Linked DNA regions of Homo sapiens. The protein of the gene in region 4 interacts with the protein of the main gene of each other region in a pairwise test. Each region holds a gene or a part of one and is shown on either strand. Other genes may lie near its edges. The genes, in order: PPFIBP2, PPP2R5A, CAGE1 and PPFIA1.

The links.
Region 1: the proteins of PPFIA1 (region 4) and PPFIBP2 interact in a two-hybrid assay, tested with the Homo sapiens proteins (one study listed by BioGRID).
Region 2: the proteins of PPFIA1 (region 4) and PPP2R5A interact in binary tests that used the Homo sapiens proteins (3 or more experiments, as listed by UniProt).
Region 3: the proteins of PPFIA1 (region 4) and CAGE1 interact in a two-hybrid assay, tested with the Homo sapiens proteins (one large-scale study listed by BioGRID).

What each region holds. Positions count from the first base shown.
Region 1 is NC_000011.10:7,515,197-7,521,420, forward strand, and holds part of PPFIBP2 (liprin-beta-2), read left to right. Parts: intron 1-6,224. UniProt on the Homo sapiens protein: May regulate the disassembly of focal adhesions. Did not bind receptor-like tyrosine phosphatases type 2A.
Region 2 is NC_000001.11:212,342,535-212,348,758, forward strand, and holds part of PPP2R5A (serine/threonine-protein phosphatase 2A 56 kDa regulatory subunit alpha isoform), read left to right. Parts: intron 1-3,268; coding exon 3,269-3,399; intron 3,400-4,812; coding exon 4,813-4,872; intron 4,873-5,854; coding exon 5,855-5,963; intron 5,964-6,224. UniProt on the Homo sapiens protein: The B regulatory subunit might modulate substrate selectivity and catalytic activity, and might also direct the localization of the catalytic enzyme to a particular subcellular compartment.
Region 3 is NC_000006.12:7,375,041-7,381,264, reverse strand, and holds part of CAGE1 (cancer-associated gene 1 protein), read left to right. Parts: intron 1-2,244; coding exon 2,245-2,648; intron 2,649-6,224.
Region 4 is NC_000011.10:70,380,901-70,386,728, forward strand, and holds the end of PPFIA1 (liprin-alpha-1), read left to right. Parts: intron 1-1,187; coding exon 1,188-1,246; 3' UTR 1,247-1,258; intron 1,259-2,102; coding exon of another isoform or gene 2,103-2,128; 3' UTR 2,129-3,496; downstream 3,497-5,828. UniProt on the Homo sapiens protein: May regulate the disassembly of focal adhesions. May localize receptor-like tyrosine phosphatases type 2A at specific sites on the plasma membrane, possibly regulating their interaction with the extracellular environment and their association with substrates.

The DNA.
Region 1 (6,224 bases), about 63 Mb from region 4:
ATAGCTAAATAAATTTGAAGTGGGAGATGGGGATGATTGATGAGGTTTTCACTGATTGCATTTATCCATGTTTTATTTAACATATTTCAATTATTAGTAATACTATTTTAAGATTTGGTGATGTGACAGTTGTTAGCTTATTGCTACTGGAGAGATAAGCTGCTTACCATGATGCCTTCTTTACTGGGTAGCTAAGGGAGATGCGCTTTGACTTTAAAAGAGTAAGTGGAATGAGATCAATGACATGAAGGCGGTAGGAACAAAGTTATGGGAATTCCTGTCTTTCATCTGAGCAGGGAAATCTGGGATAATTTTAAGAAAGGGTGATGTGATGGACCTCAAAGGATCCCTCCTGGGGTTTTTGAGGCAGAGAAGGGTAGAGTGTGGCCTGGGCTGTGACAACTGTGTGGGCAGGCAGGCATGGACTCACCATGAGAAGTGGCCAGTGGTCCAGCTTGGCTCTTATGTCAAGTGCTAGTCAGGAAAGCTGGTGACAAGGCTGGAAAATAGTCCCAGCTGTCCAGTACAGAAGTCTGGACTTGGTCTGAAGGCACAGCAGGGGACTGACTGATGGTTCTGTGAACTTCTCAAAGTCAAAGACCTTGGTCCTTGACCCTCCCAATTCCTAGCCTGATACAGAGAAAATCCAGTAAATATTTGTGGAGTGCATGGTCTGACAACACTGTAGAGCAGAGCTTCTCAAAGTTGAGAATCCTGTGGGGATCTTGTTCAAATGCAAATTATGATTCCATAGGTCAGGGGTGGGACTTGACATTCTGTGTTTCTAACAGATTCCCAGGAGCTTGCTGATCATTTCCCTATGTGTAGCAAGGATTTAGAGTAGCAGTTTGCAAACCTGGCTATGCCTCATAATCGCCTGGGGAGTTTTGTAAAACGTTCAGATTAAGTAGTCTGGGATGTTTTTACCAAGTTCCCCCAGGTGATTCTGTTGACAAACCCGAAGGCAACTGCTGCAATGGCAAAGTTCTGGGAGTGTGGTGGGAAGCAAACTCCAAGGGAAAAAGACAGTGGGGGCGGCGAGGCCGGATAGGAAACCGGGAGGCTGATCCAGGGTCAAAGGGATGAGGCCTTATTTTGGGCCTGAGAGAGTGATGAGGTGGGGACAGGTAGGGAGACTTCGGAGAGATAGAATCTGTAGGACAGAGGACTAGGGAATGGGACAGTCTCTAGACTGATTAGATGCAATGAGAAGTGAGGAGGGAGAAACAATGCTGGGAAGATTCAGCTTTGGGCCTGAGGAATGGTATGGCCTTTAGACTGTAATGTTTAAGGTAAAGTTTATGAAAGGTTCTTGTATTGGTTCGAACCCCGAGAGCCTGCCAACAGACAACATGAGGCGGTGTGGGGCAACGTGCTGTTTTAACGAGCGCCTGGGTGCAGGTGGGCTGAGGCCTAAAATGGCGTCAGCACCAAGTGAGGACGAGGCAGGGGTTTTATAGTTTCCTGTAAACAAGAAGTGTCTCAGTCTGATGTAACTTCTGCACAGTACCCAGACGGCCCCTCTCTCTGTCTTCAAGGGGTACGTGTCTTCCAGCCAGGGTAGGTGTCTTCTGGCCGGCTGTCTTCCTGCTTCTGCTGTCTTGCTGATGCACACTGCTGGCGCAACTGGCCTTGCACCTTGGGACTGGGCCTGAGAAGGGAGGAGTTACTCATCTCTTCAAGCTTTCAGACCCCGGGGAGAATCTTTCATTCCTGTCTATTTGGTTATAGTAAAAAGGGAAAAGGGGTGACTTTCTCAATAACTACTTCAGGCGTGACTTAGGGGTGGTGTGGGCTCCTTGGAAAAAGAAAAACTTAATTTTTAGGGTATTCTTGAGAGATGTGTTGGTATCCATCGTGTCGTTGTAGCAGGAGCATAGTCTGAATTGTCTGGTGGCTAACTGTAGTTTCAATAAGAGTTTTAGTGGCTTTTATTATTAGTGGGATAACACAGGGGAGAAAAAGTGATGAAGATTACTGTCCCTACCAGGGTTTTAAATCCTCCTAAATTAGAGAACTGTTGTCCGGCTGCTAGAGTGAGAGCTCGAGTGAGGGTGATGAGTTCAGCTTTTTGGGAGGTGGTGCCTGGGAGGAGCAGATTGGCTTCAATAGTGTGGGGTCTTTAAGGGTAATGTGGACAGGGGTGTGGTGTTTTGCAACTGAGGGTGTGGAAATATCCCTAACAGCGGGGTTAACTACAGATAGGGGTAAGGAAAGGTTGCATGTTTTAGGGTGGGAGGTTGGAGGAGCAGAAGAAAGCTAGAAGCCTCGGAGGGGTCTGGGTTGATGCGTTGGGTACTACGGGGAATGTGGAAGTGGAGAGTAGTGTGGAGTTTTGAAAGGATGTCCCTGCCTAGGAGCAGAGTTGGGAATGAGACCAGGTTTGGGGTGAAAAAGTGAGTGAAGGAAAAGGTGTGCAGGAAGCAGAAAAGTGGAGGGGTGGCTCGGGGTTAGGAGACTTGTCCATCAATTCCCACAACAGAGACTTAGGAGGACTGGGTGGGTCCTGAAAAATTAGGTAAAGCAGAGTAGGTCACCCATGTTGATTAAAACCATCAGGGTTACCCTTGGCTCGGATGAAGTGATGGTAGTTGCCGGGGCATCCATTCCAGGGCACCATCAGTCTTCAGCGGCAAGGCAAATGAGATCCGAGTAGGAGGTTTTGGCCTGCTCAGGAAGGGATGGGGGGCGGTCCCTGCAGGGGCCGCTCATAGTCCGACTTCCAGTGGGGTCCTCCGCAGAGGGGGCACGGCCTGGTGGGCTTACCTGGGTATGGGCATTGTCTGGACCAGTGGCTTTCATTGCCGTACTTGAAACAGGCGCCAGGTGGAGGTGGATTGCTAGGAGGCTTCTGTGTGGAGCTGTGGCCCCGTGGGCCTGCAGGGCCCCTGATGGCGGAGGCAGGCATTTGAAACTCTGCCTGTTTTTGCCTTTTACTTTCCTCATCATGATTGTTAAAGACTTTGAAGGCTAAATTAAGAAGGTCTTGTTGTGGGGTTTGAGGGCCGTCGTCAAGCTTCTGAAGCTTGCACCGAATATCGGGAATGGATTGGGAGATGAACCGAAGGTTTAAGATAGTGGTTCCTTCTGGGTTGGCTGGGTCTAGGTTGGTATATTTTCTCATGGCTTCAGTTACATGAGAGAGAAAAAGGGCTGGGTTTTTGTCAGGACTTTGGGTGATTTCTGGAAGTTTTTCATAGTTTACCACTTTATGGGCACCCTTTTTGAGTTCTGCAAGGAAACACATAATCGTGTGGTCTCGATGGCAGCATCTAGAGGCCCTGTCTTGATAATCTCAGTGGGAGTCCTGGTTGGGGACTGCCTCTGCACCAGTAGGCTTGGCAGGAGCTTGTTGATGAATTGTGTCAGCATGCACCTGAGCTAGGGTCCAGACACAGTCCTGGTCTTCTGGGGTGAGGGTGGAAGAGGGGATAACGTAGAGGTCATGCCAAGTTAGTTCATAAGACTGGGTAAGGTACTGAAACTCCCTGATATAAGAGGTAGGGTCGTCTGGAAATGAACCGAGTCTTTTGTTAATTTGAGAGAGATCAGTGAGGGAGAAGGGAACATGAACTCTTAACAATACCTTCAGCTCTTGCTACTTCCCAAAGGGGACACTCTAGCACTGGCGCTGAAGTGAGGGTGGGGCATGAGCCAAAGATGGCGCTCGAGCGAGTATGGGCGGGAGAGAAGGAAGAAGTCAGAAGTCGTTCCTGCTGAGGGTTTGAAGGGGAAAGGGGGTTTGAGTTGATAAGCAGTGGAGGACAGATAGGGGCGTAAGGTGGCGGGATGGGTTTACAGGCTTCAGGAGAGGGCAGTGAGGAAGGAGAATGAGTACAGGCAGTGCTAGAGTTGTCCTCAGGAGAGGACAGTGTAGGAAAAGAAGTGGGTACTGCTGACTGGGAAGATGGTGGCTGGGAAGATGGCAGCTGAGAAGATGGCGACTGGGAAGATGGCAGCTGAGAAGATTGCGGCTGAGAAGATAAAGAGGAGGCTTGCGGGGTTAAAGAAGATGGTTGAGAGGGAGAGGTAGAGTCTGGGAGGAATGGACAGCAGTCTGCTGGATCTAACGGGGAAAAAGAGGTATGGTCGGGAGGAGAAAGGCGATCAGGGCTGCGAGAATGGAGGAGAAGGATTTGAACAGGTGAGCAAGAATTGCAGAGGTCGGGTTGTGATCTGAGTGCCAAAAGGCCTGGAAATAAGGAATTTCTTCCTATTTCTTCGGTCGTTGGCAATACTTGCTTAAATCAGTTAAAACTGTAAAGTCGAATGTTTCATTTGCCGGCCATTTGGACCGTTATCTAATTTGTACTGTGGCCAGACTGAATTGCAAAAAAAGAAAAGGCGCTTAGGGCGGATATCTTGCCTGAGGCCTAAGGTTTGCAGGTTTTTTATGAGGCAGCCTAGAGGGCTGTTTTTTAGAATGGAGGGCCGGGAGTTTCCCATAATGAAGGGTAGGCACAGGAGAACAGGGAAAAAGGAGACAGTCCTGGACAGCCGGACGGAGACGATAAAAGGAGCGATCGTCACCACTGCCTTTTTCATTCCTGGAACGGGATCAAATGGCTTAGAGGTGTCCCCCTAAGACCAGATGATCAGCGAGTGCCTGGCACACGCTGGAGCCTTTTTGGACCAACGTTGGATTTTCGGACCAGAGAAACCAAAAGAGGCCGAGCACGTTTTTCCCTGTTAACCAGGTTCCCGGGGAAGCTTACCAGTAGGTGAGATCAGTGACTGATCTGCATGCACAGAGAGGCGACTGGAGGCTAAGGAGCTTCCTTTGTCCAGCTGCTGTGGCCTGCTTTCCAGCATAGAGGGGTAGGTCCACGGGGGACACAGACCCGAGCCTCTCCCAGGTTTCGGCACCAGATGAAAAGTTCTTGTATTGGTTCAAACCCTGAGAGCGCTCCAACAGACAACACGAGGCGGTATGGCGCAACATGCTGTTTTAATGAGCGCCTGGGTGCAGGCAGGCTGAGGCCTAAAATGGCATCAGCACCAAATGAGGACAGGGCAGGGGTTTTACAGTCTCCTGTAAACAAGAAGTGTCTCAGTTTGAGGTAGCTGCTACGTGGTACCCAGACGGCCTCCCTTTTGGTTTTCAGGGGGTACGTGTCTTCCGGTTGGGGTGGGTATTTTCCGGCTGGCTCTTTTCCTGCTTTTGCTGTTTTGCCGACGCACGCTGCTAGCACAACTGGCCTTGCACCTTGGGACTGGGCCTGAGAAGAGAGGAGTTACTCATCTCTTCAACCTTTCAGACCCCAGGGAGAATTTTTCAGTTTAGAAGTGGTTTTTTACTTGGCCATAAGATTTTTTTTTTTTTTTTCCTGAAATGCAAATCTGTTCATGATGCTGTCGTGTTTGAAATCCTCTGGTGGATATCCTAATGCAAAATATAAGAAGGAAGCACTAATATAAACACAACTGATAACACTTGTTCCATTCTACAGCCTGTTCATCCCCATTCAAGATGTGACATTCAGTCCCCATTTGGTGTGGGCACAACTAGGCTGAAACTTTTGGCAGCTTTGTTTATTCCTGAGTCACTATTTTCCCTGCGTCCTTCTTCTTCAGAGGAGCTCCACCTCCCTTGGACTTTATGTTTCTTAGTATCATTTTTTGGTTCCAATGCTTGATGGCACCTATGTGTCTCTGTCTTCATGGAATCTATGTAGTTCTAGGAAAGGTGGGCTTTATCCTTTATACACCCTTAAAGCCAAGTCTTGTTTGACTGTGGATCTTCACAAGCTTCATTCTTATCTCTCACTCATCTGGTAAATAAGCCTCTAAAAGAGGCTGTCCTAGAATAATCTGTTTAGCTTTAGGCCCAGATCTCCTTAGTGCCTCAAGTTCCAGGGGACTGCTGACTCCGAGCTTTGTCTTCAGCAAATGTATGATTTCTGTTTGCCTTAAGGTCGTTGGCTTGGTTCTCCCTGGTTATTCTTACTTTCACTTCCTCTCTCTGTCATGTTCATATGTACACATTTATGCACACTGAAAGCTGAGCATTCATTGTGCTTGATGCTTTTAATCACCCTGTTCTATGTTGCATAGTAATCATGATCCCTAACATACCTGTAGATGGGAGGCCTAGACACAGAAGGAATAGGACTGTCTCTCTGATAGGATAAAATACACCATCCTTGTATGGCATTCAAATCTCTACAGTGGTGGGCCCTACTTTAGCTCTCCAGCTGCCTCTCCACTGTTCCCCAAACTGAGAA
Region 2 (6,224 bases), on a different chromosome or scaffold from region 4:
CCAGAAAAACAAGCCTTTCTGCAGTATCTGAGAAAATGTGGTATGACCATTCAATCCATGGGCAAATCTTTGTTTTACATTTGTAAGTCTTTGAACTTGACATATATTTTAAGCATTGGGACTTTGAAATGACGGGGGAAAAAAGGAGTAGAATCATTGTGAGGAATTTGGGCTTTAGGCTCCTTTCCTAAGTATCAATTACCTTTTCCTTTTTCTTTCCTCTTTGCACCTAAGCCCCACCACCCAATTCCTAAACCACAGATAAAGTGGAATCATTAAGAACGTAAGGAGGTAGAATTAATTGTGATGCCTTCTTTTTTTTTTATAAACTGCTTATTAGCTGTTATTTTTGGAACCTACATATTCACAATTTCTAAGAATATATTCATTTTCAAAACCTTTTCAAAAATTTAAAGGCCTCTTTTTTTTTTGAGAGGGAGTCTTGTTCTGCTGCCCAGACTGGAGCACAGTGGTGCAACCTCAGCTCACTTCATCCTCCGCCTCCTGGGTTCAAGCGATTCTCCTGCCTCAGCCTCCCAAGTAGCTGGGACTACAGGCACACGCCACCATGCCCGGCTGATTTTTTTTTTCTATTTCTAGTAGAGACGGGGTTTCACCACATTGGCCAGGCTGGTCTTGAACTCCTGGCCTCAAGGGATCCTCCCACCTCAGCCTCCTAAAGAGCTAGGATTACAGGTGTGAGCCACTGCACTGGCCAAAGGCCCCTTTTTAACTATATGGAATTGGCTGGCCCCAAAGAAAATTGTGAAGTAGACCAAACCTTTCTAGGCATTTCTAGGCCTGAGTATGCAGGCCTCTTTAGGAATTTGATGCTGAGGCCAGGATTAAAATCATTGCAAGGACCTTTCCTACCCTTCAGACCGCTTTGTATGTGCCCTATGATAAAAATTCTACTAATGTGAGTTTGGTATATTTAGAGCTGATCTTTGGTCATTCATAACTACCCTTGACCTCATATAAAGTATTCTGACCTGTTGCTGTGAAGGATTGATAAATGAAGAACATTGTCAGCCTAAAATATTTCCTTCAACCATTGAAGTAGCTCTTCATAAACTATAAAGAAATATTAGGTGTGTATTAACAGTAACATATACATTTTAATCATGACTAAAAATTACATTAAATGGAGTTATGTTATTTTGGTAATTGCAAATGAATGCCTGTTTATTTCCTTGTGCAGCTCTTGTGTGGGATACATTAGGGAGCTCTAGTAATGCCATATGAAATTGTATTTAATACAGTAACAGGTTGAGGGGAACAATTGCCTTAGTGCTTTGTTAGTCTAGAGCTTGAGGTATTTAAGCTGCTGTATTATTTTGTGGTGTGAGGGGAGCAAAAAGAAAACTGGTGGGGCAGGATCTGTTTTCTACCTTCTACTTTAAATGCTTGAATTATCTGAGAAGCTAGGGCCCAGTAATTGCTTTTAGCAGTTTATATGGCTGTTTTGCTCTTGTTGCCCAGGCTGGAGTGCAGTGGCTGGATCTTGGCTCACTGCAACCTCGGCCTCCCAGGTTCAAGCGATTCTCCTGGATCAGCCTCCCAAGTAGCTGGGACTGCAAATGTGCCGACATGCCTGGCTAATTTTTGTTTGTACTTTTAGTAGAGACAGGGTTTTACTGTGTTGGCCAGGCCGGTATCAAATCCCTGACCTCAAGTGATCCGCCTGCCTTGGCCTCCCAAAGTGCTGGGATTACAGTTGAGAGCCACTTTGCCCGGCTGCCATTTTTAATTAGAATAATTTGATGTGAACTTATTAGATATATTAACAAAAATTCTCATACTCCGTAGATATTTTTTGCTGGAGTCTCATGAGGGCCTTAACAGCCTAGCAAACAAAGAATGGAAACTATAAGTATGGCAGTTGTTTTGGGAGATATAAATATGATTTAAGTCATCCACTCTGGTTTCAGATGCATGTGTTAGCAATTGTATATAATTCAAAACAAAATGGAATAAGAACTTCTGATGAGGTTCAGAGCTTGCTATCTTTATTGTAATTATAAACACGAAAGTTCAGAACATAAAATTCCTTGACAGCTTTACAGATACTTGTACTCTAGAGAGAGTATTTTATATTTTTCTAAGAAAATCCAATGTTTAAAATACAGTGTTTTTTTTGACAGAAGAAATTAAGTTTCTTTACCATTTTAAATGGAAATTTGAGATTTTGACTTTAACTTTTTCTAAAGTCTCTTCTCTCAGGTTTTGCTGAAAAGTTGTGCAGAATATAGGAGTACACTGATTGGGCCAATTGAGGTATAGGAGAGTGCTGACTGTGGAACTGGTTTAAAATTTTTCAGCTATTTGCTAAGCTGAAAAATCTATGGGCTGGGCATAGTGGCTCACGCCTATAATCCTGGCACTTTGGGACACCGAGGAGGGTGGATCGCTTGAACTCAGGAGTTTGAGACCAGCCTGGGCAACATGGTGAAACCCCGTCTCTACCAAAAAATATATAAATTAGCTGGGTGTGGTGGCATGTGCCTGTAGTCCCAGCTAGTTGGGAGGCTGAGGCAGGAGGATCTTCTGACCCCAGGAGGTCGAGGCTGCAGTGAGTTGTGATTGCATCACTACCCTCCAGTCTAGGCTACAGAGCAAGACTGTCTTAAAAAAAAAAAAAAAAAAATTTGGCCTCATCTTTTAGTCCAGTGTTATTTTATATATGATTTCTACTCTATTAGTATGTATCTGCCAATATTTTATTCTAATAACTGAATGTTAATTTTTCAAATGTCTGCATGGTAACTGTCTTGAATTTATTGTAAATTCACAAAAAGAAGTCTTAGTATATGTACATCTTTCTAGTAAACTAGAAATATACATTTACACATGGATCTTTTTAAGACTATTTGATGACTTGCAATCTAAAAACTTAAACGATTTTCTATGTAGTTTTGACGATCAAAAAGCATTAAAAATCCCAAATTTTAACACTCCAAAATTGTGAGCCTCTTTAGTATTCAAGAGTAGGATTGAATTTTAAAATCAGTGGGAAGGTAAAGAAAAATCCACTTTTTGAAATATTTATATTTATTGTAAATGTCATATTTTGAAGTGAAATAAGTGAGAAGAAATATTTCCTAAGCTTTTCCTCACCTTCATTACTTAGCAAGAATAAAGTCAGTGTGGTAAGGAAGAACTCTAAAAAATTTTTAAAAGATGTCATGGATAATCTTTAAGATCAAAATTAGAATAAAGCTTTAGCTCGATTATTTTTTAAAAGTAATTTCTCAGGTTTCTTTTAAAGCTCCTGGAGCTTTTTGATAGTGAAGATCCCAGAGAACGTGACTTCCTGAAGACTGTTCTGCACCGAATTTATGGGAAATTTCTTGGATTAAGAGCATTCATCAGAAAACAAATTAACAACATTTTCCTCAGGTAAATTAATCATTTATTGTATATTGCACCTTTTCCTCCTACATATCTTCTTGTATTCAAGTTCTTTTATTTTTATTTGTTTTTTTGAGACAGGGTCTCACTCTGTCATCCAGGCTGGAGTGCAGTGGTGAGAACATAGCTCATTGTAGCCCCCATCTCCCAGACTCAAGCAATCTTCCTCTCTCAGCCTGCCAAGTAGTGAGACTACAGGTGTGCACCACCACGCCTGGGTAATTTTTTTGACTTTTAGTAGAGACAAGGTCTATGTACTGTATGTACGTAGTATATATATGTAACATATATATGTAACATAGTATATATGTGTAACATATATATGTAACGTAGTATATATGTAACATACTATGTATGTTGCCCAGGCTGGTCTTGAACTCCTGAACTCAAGCAGTCCTCTTATATGGGGCCTATCATTTGCTTGTAGTCATCCCTCAGTATCTGGGGAGGATTGATTCCAGGGCCCCTGCTAATAGCAGAATCCAAAGTCCCTTATATAAAATGGCACAGTATTTGCATATAACGTCCACACATCCTCCTGTATACTTTATTTCTAGATTACTTACAATACTTAATACAGTGTGAATGCTGTGCAAATAGATGTTATTCTATATTTTAAATTTGTATTTATTTTTCAAAAATATTTTTGATCTGTAGTTGGTTGAATGCACAGATAATGAAACCTGCGGATACAGGGCCAAGTGTACTTTATAAATATTAATCTGTTAAGTAGTTGCTTCAGATCAGGAGATTTCATAACAACACCCACATTCAAGGTTTGGTTTGTTTAATTAATTGAAGATCTGGCAAAATTTGGTTACTATTCCCACATTGCAACAATTAGAGATGAGTAATATCTGCCTCCTCTAGAGTGAATATCTTTCTCCAGTTCTCTGTCATCACTTCCTAAGCCCATTTCAAATATCTGCCCTATTATATTTATGTCTCCCTGCTTTAAAGGCAGCCCTAATCTTGGAAAGCTATGCAGCCTATATAGTTAGAGGTGTAAAGAAATTCTGATTAAAAATGGCTTTATTACATATGGGTCTTTTTCTCTTGGATTTCCCTATAATTAGAGGTTTCTTATTTTAAAAAGTATTTCTTTGAGGAAACTTATCTTTCTTATTAATTATTAAGTTGAATATTCCAGGTGAAATGACAATCTGTTATCTTCACATATGGCGAGTTTTGGCAAAGGCATATGTAGTTCAGTAGGAAACATCTTCTTTTTTAAGATTGATATGAATTAACTGTTTGGGGCAAAACTGCTTATAAGACCCAAAACATGCTTGTGTGTTTCTAATAGCTGTCCTTTGGATTGATTTCTTCACCCTCCTGCCTGTTTCTCTTAGTTTTCTGAAGTTTGATTTTGATTACATCTTGTCTTTATTTTAAATTCAGGTTTATATATGAAACAGAACATTTCAATGGTGTTGCTGAACTTCTTGAAATATTAGGAAGGTAGGTCAGGTTTTTTTGTTCTTTTTAAGAATTAAGTAAGTGAATGTTTTATGTATTAAAATCTTAGCTGGGGTTGGAGAAATTATGTCATATTTTAGAGTTTAAATGTAGAACACATAGTTTCTCAACTGAAGTCTTTTTTTTTTTTTTGAGACGGAGTTTCGCTCTTGTTGCCCAGGCTGGAGTGCAATGGCGCGTTCTCGGCTCACTGCAACCTCTGCCTCCCGGGTTCAAGAGATTCCCCAGCCTCAGCCTCCTGAGTAGCTGGGATTACAGGTGCCTGCCACCACACCCAACGAATTTTTTAATTTTTATTTTTAGTAGCGATGGGGTTTCACCGTGTTGGCCAGGCTGGTCTTGAACTCCTGACCTCAGGCAATCCACCCCCTTCGGCCTCCCACAGTGCTGGGATTACAGGCGTGAGCCACCATGCCCAGCCTCAGCTGAATTCTTATTACCTTTTGCCATAACACTTTGCCTTCCTTATTCACTACGTATTAGTATTAAGAGAATTTTAGACCCTTCTGTTACTATTTAGACAATGATTTTAGTTTCCTTTATTAATAGTAGAAAATGATTGTGGAGAGAACTACTTCTTTCACGTTATCCAACAAAGTAAGAAAAATTACCCATTTACTTCAGAAAAATATTGAACATTCTAACAATATTGTGGTACTGACTCTCCTGGAGCTTTGGGGGCAAAAATAAAAGCAACAATGCATAAAGTGACAGGTTTGATAGAAAATGAAGATAGAAATTACTTGGGAATTAATTGACAGTCCTAATTTTCTTTTGGAATCATCAAATGACTTAGAGGAACAGACTTCATAGTAATAGTCTTCCTAAAGTAGTTTGAAGATGAGCAGTCATACAACACCAGGATTGAAGCATAGCACTGTTCCTTATGTACTCATGGATATGACAGCTTTTAGAAACAAAGTAGTAACTACTTAACCCTTCCCCTGCCTTTTTTTCCCTCCAGTATTATCAATGGCTTTGCATTGCCACTGAAAGCAGAACATAAACAATTTCTAATGAAGGTTCTTATTCCTATGCATACTGCAAAAGGATTAGCTTTGTTTCATGCTCAGGTAAGTTTCAGAAACATTTCAGATGAAATGAATATTATTTCAAAGGCCAATATAAAGGCAGAGAAATTGAGAAATACTGAGATGACAGTTTTAAGTATAATTAAGCAATTTGCTTACAAAATTACCCAAAGCAAATTTTTCTTATTTTAAAGTATTTAGTTGTTAAGTAAGACCAATTATTTAATTTCTATATCTACACTTACAGTTTAAGATACACACTTTCCTCATATTATAGTCCAGGTCTTGACCTAATTATGTGAC
Region 3 (6,224 bases), on a different chromosome or scaffold from region 4:
AGTCATACTGGATTAGGGCCTACCCTTGTGACCTCTTTTAAGCTCAATTACTTTTTTAAAGGCCCTGTCTGCAAATAAGAGTCATGTTTTAAGGTACTAGGGGTTAGAGCTTCAGCATATGAATTTTGGGGGCACACAATTGAGCCCATAACAGTATACAACAAGAAGATCACAGAAAAAGAAACCTGTAAGACCATTAAATACATGAAAGGATGTACATTAAGAAGGTCACAGTAAAATACCATTTCATGCATATGAATTTGACATGTTTTGGAGAGATGTGTAGAGCAAAGGAACCCAGAGGCTACTGGTAGAAGCATAAATTGGTACACTTTGGAGAGTAATTTTGCAATATCTAGTAAAGTTGAAGATATGTATTTTCTATAATCCAGCAATTTCACTTCTAGGTGTATCCCCAGAACCTAGCCAAAAGTTTTTACATTGGCATAGAAGGAAACATGTTCACTGCAGTGCTGTTTTTAAGGGCAAAATTAGAAGCAACTTAAATAGCCAACAAAAAAGGAATAAAGTGTAATCTTTCAGTAGAATGAACTACATATATATGTATATATGTGGCTAAGCCTCAGAAGCAAAATTTTGTGTGAAATAAAGACTTTTTTTTTTTTTTGAGATGGAGTCTTGCACTGTCACCCACGCTGGAGTGCAGTGGCATGATCTCGGCTCACTGCAACCTCCGCCTCCCAGGTTCAAGTGGTTCTCCTGCCTGAGCCTCCTGAGTAGCTGGGATTACAGATGTGCACCACCACGCCCCACTAAGTTTTGTATTTTTAGTAGATACGGGGTTTCACCATGTTGACCAGGCTGGTCTCGAATTCCTGACCTCAGGTGATCCACCCACCTCAGCCTCCCAAAGTGCTAGGATTACAGGCGTAAACCACTGCGTCCAAGACTTTTATATGGCTATAGATAGAGTGAGATGCTATTTATGTAAAATATAAAAGCACATAAAACAATACTATATATTAATCACTCACCTAAAGTGTTGCAGGGTATTTTGGAGTTTGAGGGAAACAGTGACACTGGACATCTATCAGACCCCCACAATCTGTTAGCTGTAGTTTTCACTATAAACCCATACTATAGTCCTTCCTATGATGTCTTATTTGTAAAGGTAGGTTTTTGGAGGTTGCTATAATAAAAAGCAAGTCCCGTATGAAAATCATTGTGGAATAGGAAGTGAGAGTGGTGGTCTCCAATCTGATTCCACGATTTGAGGTGCTGTACGGTGCCTAACAGTGTACATCCAAGTAGTAAAGTGTGGTTGTTTAAGAATAAAATATTATATTTTTCTTTTAGTTTATGTGTATTTTCAAACAGCTAATAACTTAGGACAAATACTAGTTTGAACTTAATTATTTACTAAATGGAACTTAAGTATTCCTTTTGGTCCAGAGGTACTGTGAAAAAAAGTACTGAGACATTAAGGGTGTCACAAAATGAGGAAATCTGGGAACTTTATTCTTTGGCAAGATTATGTTGATTTTATTATTTAGGATACATAAATCAGTAGTAAAAGTAAAATGGGAATGGGAAGAATGAATACATATGGGCTTCAGTACACTGGTTATCTCTGGGGAGGAGGAAAGTTAGATAAAAGGGATCAATAATTTGTAACATTCTGTTTTCTTATTTGCTCCTGATTTTAAAAAACATTACATCTGCATAATTTGTCATATTGAAAAATAGTATAGCATAGCATTTAGAAGTAGTAGTCTAGAATCTCAGCAGCACTGCTTAGCAGCTCTGTGACTTTGGACAAGTGACTTTAACATCTCTTACACTTCAGTTTCCTTATCTGTAAAATAGGGATAATAACAGTACTGACATCATGGGATTTTTGTGAGATTAAGCAAGTTTATATGTGTTTTCTATTATACTATCCTTGTCCTTTTGAAACATTGTATAATTTAAAACATCTTAAAATTACAGTACAACAAAAGAATTTTGAAGATCTCTTGAAATTTATTGTAATTTTATTTGACCAGAATTACATATAACACACTTTTTCCTAGCAGTCATTTGGGGACTTCTTTCCCCCATGTAAAAAGTTTTGTTTTGTTTGCTAGCACAAAACCATGCTAAAATTCACACAGTAAATAAGGTTGAAATAATATATAATTTTTAAGTGGCTACAGCAGTTTATTTGATAAATATAAATATAACTGTTACCATCCAAGTTCATGGTCTACTCGTTTTTATTTCCTTCTTTCTCTTTCTTATGAGATAACAACATTGAAAATTACTCAACGAATGCACTAATTCAGCCAGTTGACACCATCAGCATATCTTCCTTGAGACAATTTGAAACCGTTTGCAAATTTCACTGGGTAGAAGCATTTGATGATGAAATGACAGAGAAGCCAGAATTTCAAAGTCAAGTGTATAATTATGCAAAAGACAACAATATAAAGCAAGACTCATTTAAGGAAGAAAATCCAATGGAAACTAGTGTTTCTGCAAATACAGACCAACTTGGTAACGAGTATTTTAGACAGCCTCCTCCTAGAAGCCCGCCTCTAATCCACTGCAGTGGAGAGATGCTGAAATTTACAGAAAAGTCACTGGCTAAAAGTATTGCCAAGGAATCTGCCCTCAACCCTAGCCAACCTCCAAGCTTCTTATGTAAGGAAAGTGTACACAATAATATTGTAAAACCATTTGATAAAGAGAATAGTTCTAACCTAGTTCATCTGAGAGTTAATTATAAAGCAGAGGAGGTACGATTGTGATGGTCAGTAAAGCCTGTGGAGTATTAAAGGATGCATTTTAAAAATTGTATATATATATATATAATCTGAGACTTTTCCAAGTAGTGTTAAATCACCTAGTTAGCATGAGGGACTTTGCTTCTCTGGGGAAAATGCATTCTGAGATCTTAGCCAATTCAGAAATAAATTTTTCTAGTAAAATCAAGTCCATACTTGAGGATTAGCTCTACCAAATGGTAATTTCTCTAAGGATCAGGACTGTCTTACTCACCCTCTTATGCACCACAGCGTCTATATGTTTCCTTGAATATAATAAGCTTTTTTTACCATAATTTTTTTTCACCACAAACAAGTTTATTAGAGAAGTAAAGAAACAAAAGAATGGCTACTGTGTAGACAGAGCAGTCTGAATATAATAAGCTTTTATATTTGTTGAATCAAAATGGCTGGAAGTAGCAGAGTTTACACTGATGGAAAGGTCAAGAAGAGGAAGGAGTGCAGAGGCACTAATTCATTTTTCAAGAAAAACAAGATTTCTCTGTCATATTGGAATTCTACTGACAAGCAAAAAATACTACTTTTTCTACTAAAGTGAAAATATTAGTTTATCATTTGGTTTATTGATTCCGAGCACACATGTAGTATCCTAAGAGCACTGAAGATACCGACAGTATATATTCTGTGTACTTTCTGAACAAAAAAATTAAAAATACTAGGAATTGGTATGGGAAAATAGATAAAATTCAAGAATAGTATAAGTAATACCTTTTCTCTTTTTTTGTTGTTTTGTTTTGTTTTTGATACGGAGTCTCACTCTGTTGCCCAGGCTGGAGTGCAGTGGCATGATCTTGGCTCACCGCAACCCCTGCTTCCTGGATTCAAGCGATTGTCCTGCTGCAGCCTTCTGAGTAGCTAGGATTATAAGCGTGTGCCACCACACCTGGCTAATTTTTTTTTGTATTTTTAGTAGAGACGGGTTTTCACCATGTTGGCCAGGCTGGTCTTGAACTGCCGATCCACCCGCCTTGGCCTCCCAAAGTGCTGGGATTACAGGTGTGAGCTACCACACCTGGCCAATAATACCTTTCCAATGTGAGTTTGATGGGAAACACTATGACTATAATGTCTTATTTACAAGTATGAGCATTTTCATTTTTTTGAAAGTAGATGACAGCATTTAAAAGGACTTTATTTGTCCAAGTTGATTTCTGGAAAACAACCTTTTAAAAATCAGCTTAAATAGGGTTTCGCAAGATTGTTCTTTCCTCTTTTCATTGCATTTAGCCATTTTTCATTCAGTCAATAGATACTTTTAGGCATCTATTACATGGCAGGTCTGTACTACACATTAGGTGATGGTTAGAAAATAGACAAAAAGATGTAGTTCTTGTCCTCATGAAGACAGCATCCTACTAGAGGAGGTAGTCATTAATCAATCACACAAATAAATGTGAACTTGCAACTATAATAAGATCAATAAGGTGAATAAAGTTACATATAAAGTATATGTAGAGCATGTTATATAAAGTTACTATTTATGCTATGATGCTATATCAAGTTACAGATAAACTTGCAACTATGATAAGTGCTGCATATGTAAGTAGGTTGGGCATCTATGATAAGGACACTACCCTGATCAGGGAGTCTGGGGAAGGCATCCCTGAAGAAATGATCATTGAGCTGAGCTCTAAAGGATGGGTAGAAGTTAATTAGGCAGCCATGGGTAGGAGAGCCTTCCATACAGAAGGAAGAACGTCTGCAAACCCTGTGGCCACAGGAAGCATGGTACCTACTAGGACCTGAAGGAAGCCCTGAGTCCAGGAAGATCAGAGTTGGAGGAAGGAGGAGGGGTACAGCAGATGAAGACAGAGAGGTGGTGTGGGTCAGATACTGCTTTAGTTCATTTCATCTTGCTGCAACTATATCACAGACTGGGCAATTTATAATGAATAACAATTTATCTGGCTCACGGTTCTGGAGGCTAGGTCCATGGTGCCAGCATCACTCGAGGGTCTCTGTGCTGTCATTTCATGGTGGGAGGTGGAGGGGCAAAAGAAGGTGAGATCGAGGGAGCAAGTGGAGGCCAAACTAACTTTTATTTTATTTATTTATTTATTTATTTATTTATTTATTTATTTATTTATTTTGAGATGGAGTCTCGCTCTGTCGCCCAGGCTGCAGTGCAGTGGCACCATCTTGGCTCACTGCAACCTCCGCCTCCCGGGTTCAAGCAATTCTCCTGCTTCACCCTTCCCAGTAGCTGGGATTACAGGTGTGTGCCACCACGCCCAGCTAATTTTTTGTATTTTTAGTAGAGACAGGGTTTCACAGTGTTAGCCAGGATGGTCTCAATCTCCTGACGTTGCGATCCACCTGCCTCGGCTTCCCAAAGTGCTGGGATTACAGGTGTGAGCCACCACTCCCAGCCCCCAAACTCACTTTTGTAACAAATCCACTTGTGATAACTAACACACTCCTGTGATAACAACATTTAGTCATTTTTATTCACCTCTTACTAGGCCCCGTCTTCCAACACTGTTGCACTGGGGATTGGGGATCAAGCTTCCGGCACGTTAACTTTAGGGGATGCATTTAAAGCACAGCAGATATCAAGAGCAAGATATTAGGGCCTTGTAGGTCTCAGTAATGATAGTTATCTTTATCCCAGAACAATGAAAAACCATTAAGATACAAGGTTCTGCAGAAGGATGAGCTCAAAAAACAAAATACAGAAGTCCTTGTCTCTAAATTCCAGAGAATTATACAGCACACCACTACAGATACCTTTTACTGGGTTTTTACTTATTTATTTATTTTAGATACAAGGTGTCTTGCTCTGTTACTCAGATTGGAGAGCAGTGTGATCATGGCCCACAAGAAATCCTCCTGCCTCAGCTTCCCAAGGAGCTAGGACTACAGGCACATGCCACCACACCTGACTGATTTTTAAAATATTTTTTTTGAAGAGATAGGGTATCACTGTGTTACCCAAACTGGTCTCCAACTCCTGGTCTCAAGGAATCCTCTCACCTTGGGCTCCCAAAGTGTTGGGATTACAGGTATGAGCCACTGTGCCTGGCCTGGGTTTTGTTTTTGTTTTTTTTGTTTGTTTGTTTTTTGTTTTTTTGAGACAGAGTCTCGCTCTGTCGCCCAGGCTGGAGTGCAGTGGCGTGATCTCGGCTCACTGTAGCCTCCACCTCCAGGGTTCAAGCAATTCTCCTACCTCAGCCTCCCGAGTAGCTGGGACTACAGGTGCACACCGCCACGCGCAGCTAATTTTTGTATTTTTAGTAGAGATGGGGTTTCACCATGTTGGCCAGGATGGTCTTGATCTCCTGACCTCATGATCCACCCGCCTCAGCCTCCTGAAGTACTGGGATTACAAGCATGAGCCACTGCACCCGGCCCTGGGTTTTTAATGTCATATTCATTTCACCATTTCTTACCACAAATTACTGTCTTTTTTTATTTTTATTTGTTTATTTTATTATTATT
Region 4 (5,828 bases):
TCGGCTTACTGCAACCTCAGCCTCCCAAGTAGCTGGGACCACAGGTGTGGTCCCATGCCTTGCTAATTTTTTGAATTTTTTGTAGAGATGGGCTCTCACCATGTTGCCCAGGCTGGTCTTAACTCTTGGGCTCAAGCAATCCTCCTGCCTTGACCTCCCAAATTGCTGGAATTACAGACGCGAGCCACCGTGCCCAGCAAAGTTGACTATTTTAATGGCTTTTTAATTAAGGGAATGTGGGGTAAACTCCAGCAGGTCTCCCAGGTTCTTAAGAGTCAGAGGGTTTGTGAAGATCATCTGTCCTCACCAACAGTCCCAACTGTCTTAATGTCTTTGCTGGAACCATGCAGGATGTTGATTAAGTGTTCCTGGTATACCTGTGGGAAAACAAAAAACATAACCGGGAGCAGCCAGTACCTGCTTCCGATTTGCAAAAACTTAAAATCCCAGTTGTTAATGGAAATCGGGCTTACTTATGGCCACACTGTGTTTCTTGAACAAGAACCAAAATCTGTGGTCTCTATGATTAATATTTCTGGTAGGAACTGAGACTGGGCTTCAGTTTTTAGATCAGCTTTCACCCCACTCCCTGGCCAACGCCCCACCCCTGCAGCCAGATCTCTGCACCTGCTCTGCTCCTCCCCAGGAGAAAAGGGCACCGGCTTCCCAGACACCCAGCTAGTGCTGGGTAGCAAGGTTCTCTCCCTCCTCTTAGACTGGTCTTGTACCCGACGTCGTTGGCCTCTGCGCTCAGTGGGGCTGGGCAGCATCAGCAGTGCCGCTTGGTGTTTCCTTCATACCAGTGTTAGAGATGGAGCACTTAGGGCAGGGAGAAAGCCCCATTGGTCTATGAATGCAGAGTTTAGTAAGAGATAAAGGGATCACTCTAAGTAGGGGTCATTTATGCAGATGTACATTTTGAAATTGTTACTGTACCATTTGGTGCTTGGTATTTCGGAGTAGTGTTCCAGAGTCTCCCGGGGCTCTTTGGGAGCTGGGGAGAGCCACCACTGGGTGACACTTGGATCTCTCTGGCTCCATCCCGCCCACTCAGGCAGCTCCCCTCAGGTCCCTCCGTAGGCACTGCTGTAGGTGTGAAGATGTGTGTCTACTTGTGCCCTCATGTGATGTTCTAAGACTAACTGCACGCTGTGTTTGCACGCTTCCTCTCGTGGCTGTTGAAACAGGCAATGTATCAGGAACACAGAGGTTGGATTCTGCTACAGTCAGGACTTACTCCTGCTAAAGTCTCCTGTTGGTGAGTAGAGAGCACCACAACCCCTAGAGATGGCTCAGAGGCACAGCAGGAGTCATCGGAGCTGCAGTGCCAGACTAGGGGTGTGGACCATGAAAGCCAGTGCAGTTTTTGGGGAATTTAAAATATATATAGACACAAGCTCTCCGTACCCATTAAGATCATTTTGTTGTTACAATTGATCATAAAGAGGTTAGTGTGTCCTCTTTTTTTAAGGAAAAAAATGTATTTTCACCTTTTCCTTAAACCTGAAAATGCTGACTCATTTTAATTGTCTGTGGATGTCATGGGGGTGGAGTGGGGAGGAGAGCAGAGCATGGCAGAGAGCGTCAGGGGAGAGTCTCTCCTCCTGACGTCGTTATGCACATTGCTGTGATTCCTAAGCTTGCTTTGTTTTAAATACACATTCTTGAATGAAACAAGCCCAAAGTTTTGTGGTTAATTATATATTATACTAAGTGTGACACTAATAGCCTTTCAGTTTGGAGAGACTGGTTCTTAAAACTGCGGACTCTGGCTGGTGAGTGGCCCGCCCTCTCCTTGCTGTTCTAAGCAATTTTAAGGTCTCCGTTGGAATATTTGACTGGTTTGTTCATCTTTTATTTGTAATTGGTAACATGGAGACGTAAGCCAAAATGAAGTCAGCCAAGGAGCTGTCTCATTGATGTGCATAGCCCTTGATGTTCTAGCCAGTGATTCTCAGAGCAGCTACGGCACAGAAAGTGAGGGGTCCTGGAGGGGAGGGGTCAGTGTCGGGGGGACGTTTGGGCCCCAGCATCAGAAGTTCCCGTTCGTCAGTATGGCCCGGCCTGTACTGAGTGGTTTTTTGTTTGTGTTTATTTTCCAGTTTACCCACACTACTTCTACAGATGATTATGCAGCATTTGAATCCAACAAAGACTACATTTTGGAATCCAGTGGAATCTTTAATCTTGTTAATACTTGTTATATGGACCCTAAGATATTTTATTACAGAGTTTTTAATTAGTGAAAAATTCATGAATACCATAGAGAAAATATTTTAGAATTTAATGTTTCTTATATTTATGTAAACTTATGACTCTTCATTTATATAGTTACTTACTTTTTCATGTATATCCAGGCTATAAATATCCTTTCAAATCATGTTCTTATACCTAATTTTAGTCTTTCAAATGAATGTACTGTAATGCTTGTATGTATAAATCCTATGAATAGAGGGCTTTTGTAAATTATGCATTTATTGTAATTATCATTAATTTTTTAATGATAAACCATGACAAAGGATTTTACGTTTATAAAATTATGACAGAAGCCATGTGCATTATCCTTTACGGACGCAGCCTAGCTCTACAGCAATCATCCTGAAATAAGCATACCTAATTTCAAGCAATTGTTGTATTTTCATGACTGACCTTAACTGTACTTTTTCTAGCAAGAGATGCTTTATTCTGCAGCATGAACAGATTTAAAATGGCTGGTGTTAAATATCAGCTCCTAATAAGATGTGGACTGAAAACACTATCACAACACTATGAGAAGCCCCTAGCACTGGTTAACGCTTTCCTAGCCTAGTCTCTGGATTTGGGGAGCTTGTCTTCAGTGGCTGAGACTGTGAGCTGGGAGCAGTTCTCTCAGCTGGAGAGACTCGGGATGGGGTAACCTGGGGACCAGTCTAGCCCCTGCACCCTCTTCCCTGCCTCTGCTCCTTGGGAGCGGGTGGAGAGACACCCATGTGGCTCCCCTTAGGGCCAGCACCAAGCACCACGCTCTCATCCTGCAAGTCGGCGCACACAGTGGATGAAGGCAGGAGACCCAGAAAGCAGTGCAGTGCAGCTCTAATAAAGGCCTTATTTTTCTTATGTAAATCATCTTTTTACATTTGTTTGTAAACATGTTTAAAGAACGAACCTAGTGGGACATTTTTAGACTTTGATGCTCTAGCCATTTTGGATTGTGTAAGTTGCAGATGTGGCTTTTACTTTTTAAATGGCATATTAACAAGCCAGCAAAGTGTGTCAGACCATGGCGTGGTATTTATTGTGCAGCAGATCCAGAGACAGAGGCAGCCTGTCTTTTCAGTTGGTTTCTGCTTTTAATTTACTTGTACAATTCATTGTTACTGTTCTGTTTTTCTATTAATCTTTTGTCAACTTCCTGATTATGTAACAAAGTATGTACAGTCTACTTTTGAACTATTTTTATCACAGTATTATTTATTGCTTTCTTTCAATAAAGTACTGAAGCATTTTCCACTGCCAATGAAGAATACTGAGAATAAGCTCTAACTGTTTTGGAAGGCAGTGTCACCATATGGAAATTGTATTACAGAAGTCAATTGACAGAATAAAGCAGCCAGGAGATGAAGTGCAGGTTCAGGGCGTCATCCTGCCCGCTGCTCTGGAGGTCCCGAGCCTGCATCACTGCAGGAGACAGGTGCCTGGTGTTAAATTGTTAAATGCAAATGTGGGGGCTCACATACACAGTCGGTGGGTAGGGCCCAAAGGCAGAGCCTAGGCCGTGGACCGCGCGCATGCACGCATGTCCCTTAACACCGTTTCCCAGCTCTGCTTCCTTCCTCGGTGCTGGCTTCACACTCCCACCTGCTCTCCCTGCCTGCTCACAAAGGTGGCTCCCAGGCCTGCACCCTTCCACACTGATGGCCTCTGGAAATCAGGAAGCCTGGTTCCCTAATAGCTCACATCCGGTCCTGAGTTGTGAAGCAGCCCAGGGTGGCAGAGGGGAGGCGACACGCTGACAGGCTGGGGGAGTCAAGCAGGGCCCACCCATGGAAGTTGGTGAGCTGAGGCTGAAGGGCTGGAAGCTGATGCCCAAGAGGAAAGCCAGACACCAGCAAGTGTCCCTTCCCCTCCTCCCACCTCAGTGTTGCCATTGAGCCTGGGATTCGCAGAGCCCATGGCCACCACCACCCCACCTGGAGCAGGCATCAGCGGCCACTGCCGACGTCACCTTGGTCTCCGTTTCCTCATTCTGTCTCCGTTGCTGACACCTCGTCTGAGTGGCACGTGCTGTCACGTGGGTCAGTGTGTCCTGGGACGTTTCTCTCAGGCAGCCATCGGGTGTTCAGTGCTTTCCTGTTTCGAACCTGTGTTTGCTGATCTTCCTGCTTAATGTAGGGAAAGCCTTGTTTTCTGTACTTTCTAGTTCTTGAGGTTAACTTCAGTGTGAGCTTTAAAACATAATGTAGTGCCTCCCTGCTTTTTTCCATTTAATAGTCCCTTTTGGCTGAACAAAGCCAAAGGCATGCGTCGAGTATCTTAAAACTTCCAGAAAAAAAGAGACTGGGCAGGGTGTGGTGGCTCACGTCTGTAATCCAGCACTTTGGGGGGCCGAGGTGGGCGGATCACGAGGTCAAGAGATCGAGACCATCCTTCCCAACATGGTGAAACCCAGTCGCTACTAAAAATACAAAAATTAGCTGGCCTGTAGTCCCAGCTACTCGGGAGGCTAAGGCAGGAGAAACGCTTGGACCCAGGAGGTAGAGGTTGCAGTGAGCCAAGATCGCACCACTGCACTCCAGCCTGGCAACAGAGCAAGACTCCATCTCAAAAAAAAAAAAAAAAAAAAAAAAAAAGGGACTGGGGGCAGTGGCTCATGCCTGTAATCCCAGCACTTTGGGAGGCCAAGCTGGGAAGATCACTTGAGGCCAGGAGTTCAAGACCAGCCTGGGCAACGTAGTAAGACCCCCTTCTCTACCAAAAAAAAAAAAAGTGAAGACATTTTAAAATAAAACGACACTTGGCATGCAAATAGGTTTGACGTCTAGGACCGTTAATCTTCAAACTTGAGTGTGCGAAGCATCACCTGGCAAAAGATGCAGTTGTGGGCATCCCCTCTCCATTCAGAGCGATTCAGCACTCATTCATTGAGTATCTATCTACTCTGTACCAGGCTCTTTTTGGTGCTGGAGAGACCGTGGTAAGAACATTATTTCACCCTTCCAGGAAAAAGAAACGTTTCTAAGCCTGTACATCCAAGAGACAGCCCAGGAGTACAAGTTGCGCCATGACATTGGCATGGAGGGAGGGAGAAGTCCTCTGGGGAGGCCTGCATCACACAACATCAAATGCTGAGAACCATTTCATGTTCACGCTACATATTTACTGTCTCCTATGAATAAAACTCCAGACAGGGTTTCAGAGAACACCAATGCAAATGGACCTGTATTAGGTAATATGCCACCTTTCTTCATGTGACCTGTCATGCACCAGCTCTTGTGAGGTGGTTTTTTTTTTTGAGATGGAGTTTCACTCTTGTTGCCCAGACTGGAGTGCAATGACACAATCTTGGCTCACTGCAACCTCTGCCTCTTGGGTTCAAGTGATTCTTCTGCCTCAGCCTCCCAAGTCACTAGGATTACAGGTGCACGCCACCACACCTGGTTAATTTTTTGTTATTTTTAGTGGAGACGGCGTTTCGCCATTTTGGCCAGGCTGGTCTCGAACTCCTGACCTCAGGTGATCCACCCACCTCTGCCTCCCAAAGTGCTGGGATTACAGGCGTGAGCCACGGCGCCCGGTTGTGAATTTTTTTTTTTTTTTTTTTTTGAGACGTCTCACTCTGTCACCAAGGC